Regions from separate parts of the Homo sapiens genome. Here region 1 is linked to region 2. The links come from fine-mapping of genetic effects on gene expression. Tissue or cell type: hippocampus. Region 2 holds a variant in brackets; the other region holds the start of a gene. All regions are shown on one strand. Distances are from middle to middle.

The links. PIP is the estimated chance that this variant, and not a neighbour inherited with it, causes the effect.
Region 1: it holds the start of PRSS56, and the variant in region 2 is fine-mapped to the expression of PRSS56 in hippocampus (GTEx, PIP 0.99).

What each region holds. Positions count from the first base shown.
Region 1 is chr2:232,519,156-232,521,759 of GRCh38, forward strand. PRSS56 (serine protease 56) reads left to right here and starts at 1,233. Exons shown (of 13, transcript NM_001195129.2): 1 at 1,233-1,540; 2 at 2,166-2,273. The coding sequence starts at 1,444.
Region 2 is chr2:233,021,691-233,024,449 of GRCh38, forward strand. No RefSeq gene overlaps it. Among named protein-coding and RNA genes, the nearest start is that of NEU2, 9.6 kb to the right of the region's middle. The variant C/T (reference allele first, on the strand shown) is at 1,209.

The sequences.
Region 1 (2,604 bases), 500 kb before region 2:
CTCCTGGGTCCCCTGCTTTGGTGGCTCTTACTGGGAACCGCAGGCGATCTTCCTTTGGACACTGTCTCTGTTTATGCTAAAATTCAAGCTGTGTTGAGCTAATGCCTTATCTACCAAGATTGTGGAGGTCATGGATAAAAAGATACCCTGCAAGATGGACAGATACTCTGGTGAATAGAGTCCTTTCCAACTTCACCAAATTCACTCACCAGAATCATCCGCAGACAGTATTTTCAGAGCATTCCTGAAGTAGAGGTATTGTCATGGCGAGGTGCGGTGGTAACTGGGGAAAGGGCTCCTTAGCATGGTGTGCTGGTCACTGTGGAACAGCTGGCTCTCCAGGGGGAAAGAGCCCCGGGTCATAGCATTTGCTGATAAATATTCCCACCAGTTCACCTCACATGAATTGGGGAGCCTGGGCAGCGCAGACGGGCACTATCCTACCCCAGGTGGTAACTCAGTCCCAGGAGAGCTGTGTGGCCCTGCCCATGAGACTCCAGAGGACTCCAGAAGAATCCCACTGCCAGATCAGGGTCACAGAACAATGCCGGACAGGCAGAGCGGGCACTGTGCAGGGCCAGGGGGTCTGGGAGAGCGTCAGAAGCTGCTAGGGCCTGTCCTCCCGGAACTGGGCCACTGTGGGCCTTTCATCTCCCGCCTCCCTTTCCGCGCCACTCCTGCGGCTGCCTGCCTCTGCCCCTTCCCACCCCACCACCCCCAGTGCGGCAATTACGGCGCTAATTAGGCTGCTTTGATCATCTTTAGAAATGGCCACATTGGGGAGGGACTCTGCCAAGCAATTAGGGGCAGAGGGGTGGGGAGCTCCAGGGCTTCCTCAGGGGGTGGGGCTGCTGAGAAACCCCAGACACCCCCTGCCCTCCTCCCTCCAGGAGTGTCTGCCCCGTCATAGCTGTAAGCTCCTCAGGGGGTAGAGGCAGATGGGGATCCCCCCCCATCCCAGCCCTGGAGCCAGGGCCCGCCCCCACCCAGCAGCCCCCCTCTGCCTGGCCTGCAGCCCAACCGTCAGCCCTTCTTCCCTGTCTTGGCCCCTTTGATGGAGCCGCAGAAACAAGGGCTCCTTTGACAGAAGGGGGGCTCGGAGCTGGGATGATGAGACTTCAGAGGTGAAGGTCAAGCCCACTACCCCACTCCTCCCCCAGTCTTGGCCACCCTCCCGTGCACCCCTCCCCCAGGCTGTCCTCTATAAAGACCCTGCAGCCCCATTCCCCTGTGGGCTCCTAGGAGTTAAGGGCCAGGTGAGGGCTGACCAGGGAGGCGGGTAATTTTGATGTAAGAGAACGGGGTCAGATGATTTGAGGGACAAGAATTCAGTGCCCGGGGGCCGAAAGGCAGCAGAAGGCGGGCACCAAAGGATAGGCACCCGGAAGGTGGACTCCGAGGAGGAGAGAGGACAGGGGTCTCTCACCCCAGCTCCTGGTCACCATGCTGCTGGCTGTGCTGCTGCTGCTACCCCTCCCAAGCTCATGGTTTGCCCACGGGCACCCACTGTACACACGCCTGCCCCCCAGCGCCCTGCAAGGTAAGTCCAGGCTGGCCCGAGAGCCGCGGGGTTGGGAGGAATGTAGAGGAAGTGGGACCCTGGGCGGGCGGGGACAGAAGAGCTTGTCACCCCCACTCATAAGGACCTTTGGCTCCTTCTGCCCACCCTGCTGCGAGAAGGGGCCAAGAACTGAGATATAGGTGGGAGAGGAGGGGTGTGGCGGGAAAGGGAAGGGGAGCTGTTGAGCATGCCGAAAGGAATGGAGAGAAGGCCCCAAGAAGCAGAGAGAAACGGCCCGGGGCAGCACCCTGCCCTTGGCTGTCCCGGCCGAAGGTGGGCCACTCAAACACAGCTACTTTCAGTCAATAAAGCTGAGTTCTGCGATGTCTGTATCTTTGGGGTGGTGTCTTTAAAAAAAATTGTTAAGGAAAAGCACCTTTCAAAGATCCCAGTCCAGCTCAGTTGAATTAGGGAGACATCTTGGGCTGAGAACCTGGGAGCACGGGCTCTGAGTGCTGGGCCCAGCGTCCCCGGGGCTCACTTGCCTCCTCATTCTGTCCCAGGCTGGTGGGTCTCCCGAGGCAGGGCTCAGGGCTGGGGCCAGGAGGATGAGGCTGAGGCTCTTCCCCAACCACGCATGATTGTGTGCCCCCTGTCCCAGCAGTTCTGTCGGCCCAGGGGACTCAGGCGTTGCAGGCAGCCCAGAGGAGCGCCCAGTGGGCAATAAACCGAGTGGCGATGGAGATCCAGCACAGATCGCACGAGTGCCGAGGTGCCCACCCTGCCCCCCGTGCCCCAGTGAGCTTGCTGCCTACCCTGGGCCCATTCTGCTGCCTCTGTCCCTTCCCTTCAGTCTTCACTCTCCTCTTGGGGGCAGAGACTGTGTTGGGCCGCAACCTAGACTACGTTTGTGAAGGTCTGTCTCTCCGAGTGGAAAGGACACGCTAGGCTTGGGGCATGGCCTGTGCAAAGGCAGGGAGGCGGAAACACTCTGGGCTCCTGTGGTGACCAGGAGAAGTTCATGGTTGCTGAAATAGAACCCGTGTGGGCTGGAGGGCTGAGCGCGAAAGGAGAGATGGGGAGAGAGAGGCTCGGCCCAGCCT
Region 2 (2,759 bases):
AGGGAGAGCTGACCTTCCAGGAAAAGAGGGGCTGAGGTGTGGTGGACACAGTTGGCTCTGAGCCATGGGAACCATTGGGAGCTGAACAGCCAACCACAGACCCCGTGAAAGGACTTCATCCAGTGGAGGGGAGGGGAACAAAGGACAGGGCCTCCCGCATCTGTGGCTCAAGACTAAGACAAAAAGCCTACCCTGAGCTAAATATGACCGCCTTTCCATCTTTCCAGCTTCTGCAGCCTCACCCACACTGTCTGGTGGTGACTTGCAGTGACGTGGTGGATATCTTCTGGCTGCATGCCAGCAAATGACCCGTCCTTCTGGGGATAAGCTCGTGGCCCAGGGAGCCTTGGGCATGGTTGTGGTGCATAGAGAAGAAAAGGATTCGCTGCCCGGTGCTAAATCTGATGGGTCCCTACCATGGGCCAGATGCTGGGTAGAGAGATTCACATATGCCCTGCCTGGAAAGGTAACATTCATCCTTTCACTAATGAGTGTTTATCAGGCCACAGTGATGTATCAGAAACTGTTCTAGATACTGGGTTGCAGTAGTAAACAAAGCATTCAGAATCTCTGCTCTCATGCAGCTTAGGATCTATTATGATTTTTTTTTTTTTTTTTTGAGATGGAGTCTCATTCTGTTGCCCAGGCTGGAGTGCAGTGGTGCGATCTCGGCTCACTGCAAGCTCCGTCTCCGGGGTTCAAGCGATTCTCCTGCCTCAGTCTCCTGAGTAGCTGGGACTACAGGCGCCCGCCACCACACTGGGCTTATTTTTTATATTTTTAGTAGAGATAGGGTTTCACCATATTGGCCAGGCTGGTCTCGAACTCCTGACCTCATGATCTGCCTTCCTCTGCCCCACAAAGTGCTGGGATTACAGGCGTGAGCCACTGCGCCAGGCCCTATTATGATATTTTTACCTTCATTTTTCAGAGGAGGAAACTGAGATCCCAAAAGGCCAGAAAAGTGGCCCCACTCACCCATGTAGTATGTGGCCAAACCAGAAGAGCAGCCAAGTCCTGCCTGGCTCCTCACCCCTGAGCTTTCCAGACTCTCCCGGGCCCTGGGAAGTCCATCCTGCTGAGCACACATTTTGCTCAGTGCATCCACTTGAAGAGCGACATTAACTGAAATGGCTCATGGCTCATCCTTTGATTCAGGCCTGCCTGCGTGGAGAGCTGGACAGACTTCCTCCTGACTAATGAGCCCT[C/T]GCATCCTAATTGGGCCAGGGCTGGGCCTACATGCTGCCATCGTTCCTGGAACGTGCTTGGTCAGATGAGTGGGAGGCAGATACTGGGGACTCCCTTAGGTGTATATAGGGCATGGACCTGATAGAGGAGGCGCTGAGACTTGAGGAGAGTCCAGGGCAATGCAGGAGTCACGGCGCTTCTAGAAGTTGGGCTCCCACCACTTCTGGACACACACCCCGACTTCACAACTGGGCCCTGATCTCGATCTGGCTTGAGACACTCCTGGAGGTACGGCTTATCTCTAAATTGACTCACACAGTTCCTTTGTTGATATAAACAAGAGTTGTTGTTCCTGCTGGATAATTCTGAAGCGGGGTGTGATGTTTGGAAATGCCTTGACAAGGGCCATTTTAAAGAGCATGACAGTCACGGCCCCTCCACACCCACTGGGATTGCACCCCGCTTGGTTCTTGGGCTGTCCAGCGGTCATGTTGGATGGGACCGTGTGCAGAAGGCTCAGTTCAGTAAGTTCAGCCAGCTCAGAAACACTCCCTGATTCTGTCCTAAAGTCACCGCTGGTTTGAATTCCCAAGAGGAGGCCCCACAGTCCTGGACCAGCTTGGGGTCAAAACCGCAGCTCTCAGTTTGGCCTGGGAATTCCCGCAAAGCATGGGGCCAAGCGGACTTGTGGAACCCACTGGAAATGGGTTTTTCTTGGGGAGAGAGGCTGACCATGCGTGGGGCTTGCTACCTCCAGGGTTGCTCTGCCAGTGCGGTGAGCTGACCGGAGGCAGAGCTGCCTGCTGTTGGGAGAGATGGCATTATTCTGATGTGGGAACCAGCAGGTCAAGTCCCACCCCAAACTCAGCCAAGAACAAAGGCTTTTCCTCTGGGAAAAGCCGCCCAGGCCACCACTTCCCCACTCCCCACAACTGTTGACTCCCTTTGGTTGTTGTGGAATCCCGGAGGCAGGGACCAGGGCTTCTCTATTTATCTGTTTCCCGCACTGGAAGGTGCTCCATACAGATCTGTGAAATGCCAAGCATCTCCCTGCAGCGGGCAAGGTGAATGCCAGCGGGGAGGCCCCAGGCGTTGCAAGGTGCTCACAAGGTTGTGTTCCCAACAAGACATGGAGAGAAGCCGGACAGGGGTCCCCCGATGTTGTCTTTTGTCAGGGACTTCACAGAATGTTCAGACATCAGAATCCCAGCTGTGAGGCTCATGGCAGGAAACCCCAGTGGTTGGGTTCTGGAATCTGGCAGATCCAGGCTCAGATCCACTCATCCACCACCAACTGGCTGTGCGCTCCTGGAGAAGCCTCTCTGACCCACTTCTCTGTTTCCCCGCATCTGTGATAGGATGTGAAGGGGCTGCGTGGGAGAAGTGAGATTTCACGTGTGAGACGCTTGGCTCTGGGTTTGGTACCGGCAAGGCCAGAGCAGCACCAGCCACTGGTAGCCTTAGTGGGATCCTATGAAATTGCTCCTGTTTGGCTATTTTAACCTACAAAATGGCAATTTCTCAGAATTCAACCTGATAGTGTCACCTCTGACATTGTCTGGCTACTCGAG